Homo sapiens: one gene and its partner. The protein of the gene in region 2 purifies or fractionates together with the protein of the main gene of each other region. This does not show direct contact. Each region holds a gene or a part of one and is shown on either strand. Other genes may lie near its edges.

Evidence for each region. The genes of interacting proteins can lie anywhere in the genome.
Region 1: the proteins of CEP83 (region 2) and CKAP5 purify together in Homo sapiens (affinity purification with mass spectrometry; 2 studies listed by BioGRID and IntAct, with this or other methods). This does not show direct contact.

The regions. Positions count from the first base shown.
Region 1 is NC_000011.10:46,835,689-46,843,763, reverse strand, and holds part of CKAP5 (cytoskeleton-associated protein 5), read left to right. Parts: intron 1-8,075. UniProt on the Homo sapiens protein: Binds to the plus end of microtubules and regulates microtubule dynamics and microtubule organization. Acts as a processive microtubule polymerase. Promotes cytoplasmic microtubule nucleation and elongation. Plays a major role in organizing spindle poles.
Region 2 is NC_000012.12:94,372,393-94,380,467, reverse strand, and holds part of CEP83 (centrosomal protein of 83 kDa), read left to right. Parts: intron 1-1,425; coding exon 1,426-1,677; intron 1,678-4,450; coding exon 4,451-4,582; intron 4,583-8,075. UniProt on the Homo sapiens protein: Component of the distal appendage region of the centriole involved in the initiation of primary cilium assembly.

The DNA of each region.
Region 1 (8,075 bases), on a different chromosome or scaffold from region 2:
TTTGTGTTCTCTCAATTTTTTTTTTTTTTTTTTTTCAATCAGATCTCACTCTTTCGCCCTGGCTGGAGTGCAGTGCTGCTATTATGGGTCACTGCAGCCTCCACCTCCAGGGCTCAGGTGATCCTCCCATCTCAGCCTTCCGGTAGCTGGGACTACAGACGTGCATCACCATGCCTGGCAAATTTTTTTAGTTTTTGTAGCGATGGGGTTTTGCCTTGTTGCCCAGGCTGGTCTCGAACTCCTGGGCTCAAGGGATCCTTTTGTCTCGGCCTCCCAAAATGCTGGGATTACAGGCGTGAACCACTACGCCTGGCCTTCTCTTAATCTAACTGTAGCCCTGTTCGGGGCTTCACCAATGGCTCTTGGTACTACTGTACCTGGGGCTTCCATATGAAGGAGTCCCAGGAATTTCTTTTTGCCACTCCCTGACCATTTTACCTACTTATATACAGAAGGCTTGGGGTCCCCAGCAGGTGGTTGAGCCAAGAGACCCTTGCCCATTTGCCAGTCTTTATCTTGACTCATCTACCTATTGTTTCCACAATTTCAGATCAGATTTCTCATTGTAATCTGCCTCCTGACTTACAATTTCTCCAAACTGGGGTAAATATAGCAAACTTGTTTGGAACCCCTTAATGGTGGGAGACCAGCAGGGTCTCCCTTTGGCTCCCAGGCTAGTCTTGAACTCCTGGGCTCAAGTGATCATCCTGTCTTGGCCTCCCAAAGTGCTGGGATTATAGGCATGAGCCACCACACCCTGCTACCTTACTTCTTTTTTTTTTTTTTTTTTTTTTTTTGAGACGGAGTCTTGCTCTGTCACCCAGGCTGGAGTGCGGTGGCGCGATCTCGGCTCACTGCAAGCTCCGCCTCCCAGGTTCACGCCATTCTCCTGCCTCAGCCTCCCAAGTAGCTGGGACTACAGGCGCCCGCTACCAAGCCCGGCTAATTTTCTGTATTTTCAGTAGAGATGGGGTTTCACCTTGTTAGCCAGGATGGTCTCGATCTCCTGACCTCGTGATCCGCCCGCCTCGGCCTCCCAAAGTGCTGGGATTACAGGCGTGAGCCACCGCGCCCGGCCTACCTTACTTCTTAATAACCATTTAAAAATTTCCACCTTCCGGGTTGAATCCATTTGCCCTCTGTCTCACCATTCTCTTAACCTAATGGTTTTATTAGCATCTGTAAGACCCACGAGAGGAAACTGAGACAGCACATTTGATAAGGCTTCTCGAACTGTCTTTTGATTTTGCAACAGTAAGGTTATCCACATTAAGGGGTCACCCTTAACCACAGCATTTACCATGACTGGGTAGTGGGCATATTCAGAGGGTAAATGTCCTAGTCATCATAAAGCCAGTTTCACATGGCTTGCATATGAAGTATATCAGTGGCTCTATCTGGATCTGGGGTGTTCCACTTGGCATTTATGGAATCAGACTGTCCCCTTCAGGAAGCTTATGATACTAATGTACAAAGTGAAACAATTCCTTCACATTGTACCCCCTGGTTTCAATAGTTCTTTGATTTTTGCAGACCACCTTCTTTGTTACCAGAGGTCTTAGAAGCACTTTCTGTTGTCCCGGCATACATTTTTCCCTTGAGGGACAGCTTTGAGGTTAGTGGCCTAAGCTCTCACATTCACTGAAAGCTGAGCTTGGTCTAGCGGGAAGGTCCAACCCACCACTTTCTTTTAATTTCATTTTAGCTGTTACAGATAACAATAACCAAGGGATTTAACATTTCGCTTTTTTTTTTTTTTTTTTTTTGAACCAAAGTCTTACTCTTTCTCCAGGGCTGGAGTGCAATGGCACGATCTCGGCTCACTGCAACCTCTGCCTCCCAGGCTCAAGTGATTCTCCTGCCTCAGCCTCCTGAGTAGCTGGGATTACAGGCGTGAGCCACAGCACCCGCCTAAATTTTTTGTATTTTTAGTAGAGATGGAGTTTCACTGTTAGCCAGATGGTCTCAATCTCCTAACCTCGTGATCCTCCTGCCTTGGCCTCCCAAAGTGCTGGGATTACAGGCGTGAGCCACCGTGCCGAGCCAGCATATCACTTTTTTAATACTAGTTTGCATTTCCTTGTGCATCCTGTGAACCAACTCCCAGGCAGTTGGATCCATCTCTGGATTCCATGGATAACTTTTACCTTTAGTAATTGATGACAGCACAGCTTCAGCTCTTTACCATGGGTGACCACTTGGCCACCTAAGAATCAAAGTTCTTTATCCCTATCCTTTTATCCTTTTTCTTCCCAAACCATATGTGTCTGTGAGCCAAGTCATTCTAGCAAATCCCAATTCTGACGCCAATTCTGAGAATATAGAATAAGAAACTTTAATAAGTTTATCTTATACTCTCACAATACAGAAAACTTCTGTGACCTCAGATGTGTGAGATTTTTTTCCCCACACACCAAGCAAGTAGTTCTTCAGCAGTGGACACTAGCTGTGTGTCCTCTAATTCAGTTCAATTCTGACACCTTTTTTTTTTTTTTTGAGACAGAATTGCTCTGTTGCCCAGGCTGGAGTGCGGTGGCGCAGTCTTGGCTGACTGCAACCTCTGTCTCCCGGGTTCAAGAGATTCTCCTTCCTCAGCCTCCCGAGTAGCTGGGATTACAAGAACCCACCACAACACCCATCTAATTTTTTGTATTTTTAGTAGAGACGGGGTTTCTCCATTTTGGCCAGGCTGGTCTTGAACTCCTGGCCTCAAGTGATCCGCCCGCCTCAGCCTCCCAAAGTGCTGGGATTACAGGCATGAGCCACCTCACCTGGCCAATTCTGACACTTTCTATCTGGAGGTAGTGTCAGATCCCACAGGTTGAGGGTTTAGTCCCAGAAGACTGCCCCCAACTCAGATGCCAATCTGAAGCCCCAGGTTTTTTTTTACCTGTGCTTCTGTAGGCTGACTATAAAAATGGGCATTCCTAATACCGCCCCCCATTCCCTGCCTTGGGTTTGATTAATTTGCTAGACCTGTTCATAGAACTCAGGAAAACACATTTTCCAGCCAGTTTATTATAAAGGATATTGCAAAGGATACAAAGAGCTATATAGGGTGAGGTATAGGGGAAGAGGCATGGAGCTTCCATGCCCTCTCTGGGCACACCACGCTCCAGGGACCACCATGTGTTCAGCTCTCAGCTTCTCCAGCAGCAAAGTTTTAATTGCAATAAATTTGAGTACCTTAATATTATGAACACTGTTCTAGGTTTTTGGTAAGCAATTAAAAATAATAAACAACTTTAACAGTGCCTTAGGATAAGTGTTAAAAATTTTGACAGGGAATGAGTATGTTAAGGTAAAGCCAGGCTCTCTTATGCTCCTTTAATGGGGTCTTATTCATTCATTGAACAGATATTGAGATTGATGCTTAATGTCTGTCACACATTGTTCTAGATTCAGGGAATACACTGGTGAACCAGAAAAAGACAAAGGCCCTGACCTAAGGGAGTTTGACAGTTTTATCTGTCAAACAATTTACTGTAGCAAATTATAGTTTCTGTAATCCCTCTGGGGTCAGCTCTGGTCCTTGAATAAAATACATGCCCAGATACTTTTACTAGCAGTAGCTAACATGTATTGAATGCCTACTGGGTCCCACATTTTGTTTAATTAATTAATTAATTAATTTTTTTGAGACAGGATCTCACTCTGTCGCCCAGGCTGGAGTGTAGTGGTGTGATCATGGCTCACTGTAGACTCAACCTCCTGGGCTCAATCTGTCCTCCCACCTCAGCCTCCCAAGTAGGTGGGCCTACAGGCACATGCTAATTTTTGTATTTTTTGTAGAGATGGGGTTTTGCCATGTTACTCAGGCTGGTCTCAAACTCCTGGGCTTAAGCAATCTGCCCTCCTTACCCTCCCAAATTGCTGGGGTTACAAGCATGAGCCAACATGTCCCGCTACATTTTATCTTTTTTTATCCTCACAATGTTTTACAGATGAGGAAACTGAGTCTTTAAAAGGCTGTGCAACATGCTCAAAATCATAGAACTAAGTGATAGAATCTGAATTCAAACCCAAGTCAGTCTGTCTCCAGGGCCTTTGCTCTTAACCTATGATTGTACTACGTGAAGTAGGGATCTGTAGGAGAATTCAGGAGCAATTTCTGGGTAGAATTCCCCCAGCCCCTTTTAAAAAAGTACTTCTATCGGAGATGTGATGAAATATGAATGACAGGCATGATAGTTTTTAGAGGAAAGATGGCATTTACCATATGGAAGATGGACAACTGTGACAGTGGTGGCGGTGGGTAGCTAAAGGGACGCATAAAAATTGAGTTCTTAATCTAATTAGGATTCTTGGTAGTCAATGTTGGAGAGTTTTAAGGTTTTTAAATGATTTTCCTATTCTTGCCTCTGGAGTTTAGAATACATTACTTAGCTCATTTCTATCAGGGCAGTTACTCTACCTACTTGATGTGTATAACTCCAACACATTACGCTTATTCTTTTCGGTCTTTGCATTCTGTTCTGGAACTTCTCACTTCACTCTACCCCTACCCCCAGCCTGTATTACTGGCACTCTCAGGCTTCAACTTAAATGTCATCTCCTTAAAGAGACACTTTTCTGAGCTCTGAATTAGAGGAGCCCTCTTGGTCACTTTTACTTCACTTTTCCTTATTTACTTCATAGCATATATTGTTATGTAATTGTTTATTGTTTGTCTATATATTGTTAGATTTTCTCATAAAAATGAAAGCAGAACATAGATTTTTTTTTTCCTTTGAGGTTACCTCAGTGACTCAACAATGCCTGCAACAAACTAGGTGGTCAAAAATATTTGTTGAACAAAATTGGCCAAAACTGGCATCATCTTCTCTGAACAAAAAAGTGATAAAAACAGTATCTGACTATTCAGTTGGCTGTGTTTCTGTGTCTTTATTTATTTTTTTTTATTTTTATATTCTAAAAATGTTGCGACAATGGTGGCTCAGCAATTTTTTTTTTTTTTTTTTTTTTTTTTTGAGATGGGGTCCCACTCTGTCTCCTAGGCTGGAGTGTGTTGGCCTGATCTCTGCTTACTGCAACCTTCACCTCCCGGGCTCAAGGGATCCTCTCACCTCAGCCTCTAGTGGCTGGGACTACAGGCGAGTGCCACCACACCCGGCTAATTTTTTTTTTTTTTTTTTTTTTTTTTTTTGAAGAGGCAAGGTATTACTATGTTGCCCAGGATGGTCTTGAACTCTTGGACTCAAGTGATCTGCCTGCCTCGGCCTCCCAAAGTGCTAAAGTGCTAGGATTACAGGCGTGAGCCACCGTGTCTGGCTGTCATTTTTTTCTTTTTGTGGAGACACAGTCTCAGTATGTTGCCTAAGCTGGTCTTGAACTCCTGGCCTCAAACAATCCTCTCGCTCCAGCATCCAAAGTGCTGGGATTACTGGTGTGAGCCACTGCACCAGGCTTGTTCCTGTGTTTTTGGGTGTAAGCAGTATCTTAACAGTCTCAATTAGTCTTAAAATTATTTTAGACTAGTTCAGAAAGTCTTTAAGAAAGCTAGAAAAATTATACATCTGAATTTTTTAAAAAAATTTTAATCTGTTTTGAGAGGTACTAGTCAAATACATTGTAAGATGTCCTTCTATTGGAATTTGTCTGATGTTTTTCTCATTAGACTGGAGTTACAGGTTTTGGGCAGGAAGACCACAGAGGTAAAGTGCCATTTTCATCACATCATATCAAGGGTACATGCTATCAACATGATTTATGACTTAATATTGACCTTGACTGTTCATATTGACCTGAAATAGTGTTTGTGAGGTTTCTACAGTGAATTTACTTTTTTTTCCCCTCCTTTTCTATACTGTATTCTTTGAAGGGAAGTCACTGTTTGCAGCCCACACTTAAGGAATGGGGAGTTCCTTGATCTTAGGGTGGAGTACCTACTTAATTTATTTGAAATTCTTGTCTCTCCTTTCCCATTTATTAGTTTAGTCAAGTATTTACTGATAATAGTGTGGACTCAAGTATATTTATTTTATATTTTAGGTTACACTCCAATATTACATTATTTTGTTGTTCAGGTTGTTCCAGCTTTGTCCTTTGGGAGCTTCCTGTATTCCTTTAACATACATGTGTGTGTGTGTGCGCGTATTTGTATTGATCTTTGAGTACTTCCTTACTATCTGGAAATGTTCCAGGCTCATCTTGTGTATTTCTTGTCCCAGTGCTAGAATCAGCCATTTCCCCAAGGTGCCCTGGTTCCCTTATTGGAGAATGCTATTAGAAACAAGACCTGGGTACTGAGTGTTCTCTTTGCTACTGGGGTGTCATTTCTTTTAGGTCCTTTCAACTGTTAGAGCAAAGAAATATATGAATGTATGCTAACCCCATGTATATAGACATATCTATAAATATTTCTCTATGTAGCCATCTGTGTCTATATTAAGTTAAACGAGTTCCATAGATCACTTTCAGTAGTATGGGCGGGGGGGAAAAACATGAGTTCCTACTGGTGTCTCCAATTCTGATCCATTATCACATAGATCATTCTAGCCTCCTCCCCTTGCTGATCTTTGAATTTCCATTCACAATAGTGAAAAACCTAATTTCCACCATCCATTTATTTAATTGTCCAGTTCCATTATATATGGATATACATACATGGATAGCAGTATCAGAATTGCTAACCCATACTCCATGAAAAAAACTTTATCAACTAGAGTACATACTTCTGTGCAGTTCCTTTTGCCCTTAATCTTTCAGACTCCACTCATTACCAAAGCTACTTAGGTCAGAACCTTTTTCCCACCCCCTTTGGTGAAGTTGTTTCACACATCTGTAATATAGATTCCCTTGTCATAGTCTTCATTCTTTTCTGCAATCTCCCAGTCTCCTAAATGACTTTTTAAAATTTGCATACATTAAAGTTCACTCTTTATGTCATAAAAGTCTCGAACTCCTGCCTTGGCCTCCCAAAAGTGCTGGGATTAACAGTACAACCCACTGTGCCCAGCTGACATAAATTTTTAATTCAGTTGGATAAATACCTAGAAGCAGGTTGCTGGATCATATGGTAAGACTAGTTATAGTTTTGTAAGAAACTGCCAAACTCTATTCCAGAGTGGCTGTACCATTTTGCATTCCTATTAGCAATGAATGAGAGTTCCTCTTGCTCCACGTTCTTAACAGCACTTAGTTCTATCTGGTTTTTGGATTTTAGCCCTTCTGGTAGGTATGTAGTGTCCCCACTTTATTATTATTATTATTTTAAAGAGATGGGGTCTCACTGTGTTGACCAGGCTGGTCTCAAACTCCTGGCCTCAAGCAATCCTCCCATCTCAGCCTCCTGAAATGCTAGGATTATAGGTTTGAGCCACTGTGCCTGACCTAGTGTTCTCACTTTTTAAAATTATTCGTTTTCACGACATTACCTTTTTTGAAAATAAATGTTAGTTTTTTAAGAGGAAACTTTTTAAAAATTAACTTTATTTTGGAATAATTATAGATTGTTCCAACAGAAAAGTTGCAAAGATGATGTGTAGGATTCCTGCATACCTCTCACCCAGTGTGCCCTGTTATTAACATCGTTTAAACAAACTCCAGATTCTGTTTGTGTTTCAACAGTTTTTCTATTCATGTGCCCATTCTGTTTCAGGATCCAATTCAGGGTAACATATTGCACTTCGTGGTCATCTCTATTAGCCTTCTCTGGTCTTTGGCAATTTCTCAGTCCTTCCTTGTTTTCATGACCATGACCATTTTGAGGAGTACTAGTCAGTTGTTTTGTAGACTGCCCTTCTCTTTGTCTTTGTCTGATATTTTTCTCATGATTAGTCAAGAATTACGTGTTTTTGGAAAGAATACCATAGAATACCATATCATATCAGGGGTTTTGTGATATCCATGTGACATCATTAGTGATATTAACCATGATCACTTGATTAAGTTAGTGTTTGCTAGGTTAAGTATTAAAGTTAGTATTTTTCCCTTTCTATAGCTATTCTTATGAAAATGAGTAGCCAGGTCTAGCCCACCCCCAAAGTGGGTGAAGGGATTAGATTCCACTTCCCGGAGTTAAGGGTATCTACATATATTCGGAATTTTGTAAGGAAGATTTGTCTCTTTTCACC
Region 2 (8,075 bases):
ATAGGAGAGAAATACTAATTAGTTGGGCTTTTGAGGACTTAACTCTAAATGCCACAGCTGCCTTCAAGGATAAATTTTATTCTCTGCAAAATAATATTTGTCTGCTGGATAGCTCTACCTATATTTCTCATTGGCATTTAAATTCAGCATGTCCAAAAACAAACTGGAATCACTATGTGTTAAAACTAAAAAGGTTGTTAGAGTGCATGTAATTCAGTTTCCCATTTTACAGGTGTGGAGAACAGATCCTGCCCTGGGGTGGAGGTCTTAAACTTTTTAGATTCATTGATAGTGCTGTGATCAAACAGTTGTTTCTTGGACCACTTTTGCCTAAGGTTTTGGAGCATTTCTTTAGTTTTTTCTGTTTTTGTTTTTTGTTTTTTTTTTTTTTTTTTTGCAGGGCCGGGGAGCTTACAGTGAGTCTTTGATGTTCATCCTGGCTACAAACAACCTCTTGTCCTGTTTTGAGCAGTGGTTTTCAACTTCTTCTTAACAAACAAAAAACCCAGCTGAATCATTTACTTAAGTTGAATCATTTGAAGAAACCCCAGAAAGAGACTAAAAATAGAAGCGTATGGTTAATGCCAGAAATTTGGTGGGGGTGGTGGTAGGGGATAGATAGTTGGGGAGATCAGGAAAGGGAAAGAATGAGTTCTAGACCCTGATTGCTTGCCCCTGGTCTCCAGAGGTGAGGAGCTTCTGAAATGCCTCAGAGGTTAGGAAACAGTTTGAAACCCACTGATTTGGAGGCCCACGAAGTCCAGCAGTGATAATTGGCATGAATGACAAGACCACTGGTGTCTCTGCTCTGCAAGTTCCCCAGTGACTTTAACACCTGCCCTGGAGTAATGATTTTTCAATTCTTCTTGAATCTAAGAACTAAGAACTAGGCCATCATTACAATTAGGACTTTAATAAACTCTCAGCTATCATTTAAAAACTCTCATCAATCACATTTGCTTTTATGTACACAGACAGGCAGTTTTTGTGTGAATTAAGTTGCCCTGACATAGATAATTTTATTAGTATAGACTAGCTCAAGAATTACAGTCATGTGAGGAAAAGCTTTGGAGTAGTCAGAGTTTTGGTCATGAACCCCTATAATGTTATGATGAATTTTAAAATACTTGATGTATGTTTAGTACTTACAGTATTATAATTTTAAATTTTAGTCAGCAACTGATTAAGCCCTGTTCTAGACACCACGTGGAGATACAGGGAAAACAGGACACAGTCCTTGACCTCACATTTGAGTCCCACTAAGAACAAAAAGATAGTGATACTTAAAATTTTTTCCTTTGTACTTTGTTTCAGCACCTGAGCTTTGATTTTGTGCATTTTTTAATTTTACTGACTTGTAAAGCATGTTCATGACTGAAAATTTAATAATTTAACCTTGTATGCTTTCTTTAAAATTATTATTAGATTGCAAGACTGGAGGAAGATAAAGAAGAACTACGTAACCAGCTGCTTAATGTTGATCTCACAAAAGACAGCAAACGAGTGGAACAACTTGCTCGAGAAAAAGTCTATTTGTGTCAAAAATTAAAAGGTTTAGAGGCTGAAGTAGCGGAATTAAAGGCTGAAAAGGAGAATTCTGAGGCTCAGGTGGAAAATGCCCAAAGAATACAGGTGCGGCAGTTGGCTGAGATGCAGGCTACAGTCAGATCCCTGGAGGTAAGATTCTAATTACTTCCCAGTAGAGTATGGCATACTTTTTTAAAGTGCAGTTGACAAGCCTTTGATTTTTAGAGCATAAATGTATGCCCCCCAAGCTAATGCTGATGCATTTGTGTAATCCCAAGAGTATTTATTCTTTTAGTAAAGAAGAAAGCTATTGATTCATAAGCAATACGTATGCTACCACATTTACAAAGGGGTATTTATTCTTTGGGAGTCAAGTCACCTATCTGAAATGTCTTAACTCTTAAAATGCCACATAATAGAATATGCAAAATAAAAATATATGTATTTGAGTTTCTGAGCGTAAAGTCATCTCAAACCAGAAAGAATAATTTCTTTCAAGATAGTACATTCCTTACACTGGGATTTGAGGTCTTAAAGTCACAAATCCTGTTTGAACAGAAATACCATACTGATGTATCTTACGACAGCTTCTTGCCAGAGTAGTAAAATCCAACTGTAAAGGTATACATGCCTTTACAGAATTATTTCCCTGGGTTCATTAGAGAAAGATAAGTGTTGGCAGACCTGACTGGTACTCCTACGGGTATTGCCTTATGAAAATTCTTGGTTTCCATTTTATTCAGATACACTTATTCTTCTTAGTTCTTAGTGCCTAACTTGTAGCAAACATACCTGTTTAATTGTTTTTATTTATTTTGTATAGTTCAAAGTGTTTCTTTTTCCTTTGGAATAGTTATAAAATGATTTGGGTGGGGGGGACATTAGCGGGCATTTAATTTGTAGTTAAAATCAATATCCAAATCCAAGATGGTGATTTTTTTTTTCCCCAGCCAGTGGTACAGGAGTACAATGGTATGTTTTGAAGAGTAGAAGTTACTTTTTATTTTGTTACATGACGCTCTGTCAGTATTTACTGGTTTTCTGAATTAAAAGTTGTCAGTATCATTGTACCTTAAACATGAAGCAGTTCATTGTGAGACTATTTATGTTGCCATCCTTCCATCCTTAATGTATTTTACACAGTGACAGAATAAGTGAGATGATTGCAGTTGAATATAGCATACAGTCCTGATGTGAAACTTTCCATTGAGGTCCTTTAGAGTGATTATTTTCAGGGCAAGTTGAATGATGACAGAAGATTTATTTGTGACATTTTCAGAAGAGCCTATATTTAATTTTATTATTTGTCAGATGAAATGAAAATAAGCGTATGACAGCAAGCATTTCTTTCTTCTTTAACTTTCTTGGCTATCATTGTGCCCAGAGAGTATTATTTCATATATGAAGAAAATAGTTTTTTTCCCTAATTGTTTGTCGAATATAGTCCTTACCACATTTAAGCTAGATGTTCCCCAACTTAAGGTGGTTTGACTTACTATTTTTTGACTGTCCGATGGTGTGAAAGCCATATATGCATTTATGTACTTTGAATTTTGATCTTTTCCTGGGTTACTGATATGTGGTGTGATACTCTTAATGCTGGGTAGCTGCACTGAGCCACAGTTCCCAGTCAGTCATGTGGTCATGAGGGTAAATAACCTCTTTACAGAGTACTGTGTCGCCAAATGATTTTTTCCAACTGTAGGCTAATGCACGTGTGTTGAGGATGCTTAAGTTAGGCTAGTCTAAGTTATGGACTTAGGTATTTTCAATTTGTGATGGGTTTATCAGGATGTAACCCCATCATAAGTCGAACAGCATCTATATGTACGAAATGAGATGTTATAAAACTGAAATTTATCCTTTAAATGCCAAAATGTCTTCATTTTAATTATGTTGAGGTCAGGTGTGGTCGCTTATGCCTGTAATCCCAGCAGTTTGGGAGGCTGAGGTAGCTGGATCACCTGAGCTCAGGAGTTTGAGATGAGCCTGAACAACACGGGTGAAACCCTGTCTCTACAAAAAGTACAAAAATTAGCCAGGTGCCATGGTGTGCACCTGAAGTCCTAGCTACTCGGGAGGCTGAGGCAGGAGAATTGTTTGAGCTTGGGAGGCGGAGGTTGTGGTGAGCCAAGATCGTGCCATTGCACTGCAGCCTGGGAGACAGAGCAAGACCTTGTCTCAAAAAAAAAATATATATATATATATGTGTGTGTGTGTGTGTGTGTGTGTGTGTGTGTGTGTGTGTGTATATATGTATATATATTATGTTGAATAGACATGTTTTTTCAAAAAAGATTTTAGTTTCCCTCCCCTCATGAAAGAGTACTATCGATATTACCATCCAGAAACTTTTTTGACAACCTGCAGACTTCATTAACAATCTTAATTGTGTCATGAGATCAAGAGCCTCTTTGCTCGTACTTAAAAAGTCTGCAGATGAGCTGAGGATTTTGAAATCATATCTTTCCCTGTTTCTTTTTTTAAAATCATTGATTTTAGATTTTCAATTTTTACTTGTTACTATCAATGAGCCCTGTCTTCTAGTTTCTAATATGCTTTTTCTTATCTGTTATAGACTGGAAACTTCCAAAATGTTTGAAATAAGTCAGTGTTAAGAGTAAATAGACATCAAATGAATGCCTTAGGTACTTTCTGTCGTGAGAGAAGTGTATAAACTTTATTTTATTGATGGTCATTCATATGTTGTTTGTCTAGATGCCTTTGTTGCATATTTCCTGGAACACTATCTTTCGTTTGAATTCTGCCAATTAGTTTGAGAAAATTTTTGTTACATTGGTATATGTTAAGTTGAGGTTTTGAATAATTTTAGTATAATTATAAATGTATTTTAAATAGTGCTTATTTGATTTTGAAATACTTGAAAAATGATGAATTTTAAACTATTTTGTTTGTATGAAAGGCTGAAAAACAATCAGCTAATTTACGGGCAGAACGTTTGGAAAAAGAGCTACAATCAAGCAGTGAACAAAATACCTTTTTAATTAATAAATTGCATAAAGCTGAACGAGAAATAAATACATTGTCCAGTAAAGTAAGTTGTTTTATGTTTCTGTTTCATTCTTTAGAATGTTTGTTAGTATATAATGATAAATTTTATTTTTAATAATTGATTTCTTTATACTGAAATGTTTTATTATATCATTCTGCCTTCTAAGAAATAAATACATTGATCAGTAGAGTATGTTATCTTATGCCTCTATTTCATTCTTTAGAATGCTTGATACTGTACAGTGACAAATTTTGTGTTTAGTTCTCTGTATTGAAATATTTTTAATCCTTTATCATTCTACCTTCCAAATACATGCAGAATCTGATCAATTCTTATGACATCCACTGTGACTATTCCAGTCCAAGCCATGATTTTTCTAGGCTCCATTTCTGTGCTAGGTTGCTAACTGGTCTTTCTGCTTTCTACCCATTCAGAGCTCTGTATGATCTGGATCCTGCAGTCTTTTCACAGCCATGACCTGTATTTTTCCTCCTGTTCACTTTGCTCCCTTTGGCCTTCTCACTCTTTGAGCAAACTCACATCTTGCTCAGGGTTTCTGCACTTGTCTGAGTTTGGCTCAGTCTTCCCTCACGTATCCACATAACTTGCTTCTTCACCACCTAGATGTTGCCTAACCAGGGAGGCTTTCCTTGTCTTCACATTGTAAAACAGCATCTTCCTTCTTCCTCTGTCTTTCTCTCTGTCTTCCTTACCTGCTTCATAGCTCTTAATACTATCTGATATAGTTATTTGGTTTTTATTTTTTGGTCTCTCCTTTTCTTTCCCACCACCTTCCCCTCAACCCAATGTAAGCTCCAAGAGAGCAGGGACATTGTTTTCATCACTACTGCTTTTCCAGCTTCTAGAATGGTGCCGGCACATAGTAGGTACTCAAATATTTCTTCAATGAATAAATTAGTAGTAGCAGCATGATCTACATTTATATTCTCCTTAACAGACTGGATTCAAATTCTGATTTTTTCATTACTAAAAAAAGCTGTGTGACCTTGGGCAGTTCACTGTCTCTCTGAAACTTAAGTGCCTTTGTCTATGCAATGGGACTAATACCTACATTACAGAGTTGTGGCAAAAATTAAATGTAGCTGATGATGAAAATGATAATAGCAGTGATTATACACTGGTGATATCCTTAAATAAGAAAATATTGTAACATAAAGAATACAGAATTTTTAGTCCATTGACTAGTCTGTGTCTCACTGTCTCAATAACTATGTGTAACCTAAGGCAAGTTACCTAATATCATTAGGATCCAATTTCCTTATATCTGTAAGAACCCTTCCAGCCTACTAAGACTGTGTAAGAACTACTAGGAAATAATTTGATTGCCTCCTGATTAACTGTAAGTAGATTATATATTCAACAGATACACATTGAAAGCTTATAACTATAGAGTATACAAAAAAATAGATACAAAACACAAGTAAATTCAGGATATGGGGAGTTTCCATGCTTTTCTTCCAATTCCAGTATAAATTATTTTCAATTTTGTGAAATAATATTGAGTACGTAGTATTTGCAGCACATTGTTCTTGACCTGAGTAGCCAGACTACACTGCTGGAATAATTGGAACCACAGATGTCGCAATAGGACATGGGATGTGCTGGCTTCTGCTGTGGCTTCTCTCTTGGGGGGGCCACCAAGTATAATACTTTTCATGCAGTACATTTTACCTGAGCTCCCTAGCTCACCTGTGTGCTGACCCTGATTTTTCTTCTTTTTTTCCATATATATATACTCTTCCCTATTGCTCTTTCCTCTTAGAGTTAGAGCCTAGGTGATTTCTCCTACTCCGCTGAAGAAAGAACAGCAATCTAGTATAGTATTTATTTCTCTGTGCTTGTTTATTAATACACATTGCTAAGAGTTGCCTGTCTTTTTAAAGGCACACTTGCCTTATTTTGCATATAAATGGAGTATTAAATACCATCCTTCAACTTTAAACAAACCAAGTTTCATTTGAAGTCTTGTATGTAAAGATTCCATTGGAAGGGTAGATTTTAAAATAATATTTCAAACATGACTGCCACAGTTTTCTTTGCAACTTGAAGTTTTCATCAACATTTTGCAATTCTAGCAAATGGTTGTTTGCAGTGCAAAGGAACACCTGGGGTGTGTTTGTCTTAGTTACTCAAATTCATAAATGTTTGTCAGATTTTAGAACAAAGTTATGTCAGTGTGAGTATCAGTGTCTTGGATTAAAAGGTATTACCAAAGATGGCCTGAAAATGATGACCTTAAAGAGATTTCACATTCAGTGAGGTAAATTCTTCTAGTTCCCTCATAAGGTTTTTCATTTTCAGAATGCCAATAAAAGGTAGTTTTAAGAAAGCCACCCAACAGAGTTGTCCTTATTTACCTAAATTAATTGGGTAATTACATCTCAGAACTTTGAAAAAGATCAAGATTTAAGTACCATCTCTTTGGAATCTGTATCCAGAGCTTCTTAGGTAATACATATTGTCAATTATATTTCCATTTCTTGCTTATTTATGCTGTGCTCTTGTGTGTCTTTCTGTGAGTATGTGTACTTTAACAGATACTGACCCCCTGTAAAATGCCCAGTTTTGCCAGTTTTGACATTTATTAAAGTTTTGTTAGTAATATCTGAATACTTCCATTGTGTCAAAACATAAAGCAAATTCACAACATAAAGGCCAGAATCTATATGGCAAACATTCTGTGAAGAACAGGGTGACTTGGTCCAGTGGAGCTTTAGGAGACCATGAATTGCTTGAAATTTTATGCAACATTTTAACATGAGCATTTTATTTAAAAAAAAAATCCCTAATTTTCCTAGGATTTGGGACTTGATCACAAAGAAGATTAAGAACCAAGGATCTAGGGGCAGAAAGAAACTTTACTGTAACATTTGGAATTTGGTTCAGATTACTCATAGAAAAGTGCTATTATTTGTCATTACTGGGTAATACATTTTCATACGTTAAGTAAAATTCCTTTTAGTATATTTTTAGGAAATTAACAGTGTTCATATAAGTGATGCATCAGTGATGTTAGGATAATAGAAATAAGGCAATAAAGAAAAACTTTAGATCCATAAATGAGTACATTTGAATGCAGAGAGGACAGGTAAATTGCTTGAGCATATACCACTGGTTTAACAGCAAAAGTAGGCCTGAAGACAGACCTCACTTGTTGCTTGACTTCCTATTCGGTGTTCTTTCAGTTTCAATAATTGTAGTTTAGTTAAAAATGTCGTCTCATTTCAGTAAATTTCAGGGTGAAATGAATAAGAAATAAGTTTTTGTAGATCTTTTACCATGAGATGAATCAACTTCCTATGAAATAAGATGGCTCTAATTTTCCACCTCATGCAGCTATAGTATGTTTGTTAATGAAATGCTGTGTCATTCTTAACCTTTTACAGTTAGTATATAATAGCAGGTTATAATTACATTTGTCATAGTGATTGGATTTTCTTTGTAATCATATTTCTTCAAAATTTTAAAGTATTTATAATTTAAATTCTATCTGTCCATGAAATTATAATGTAGT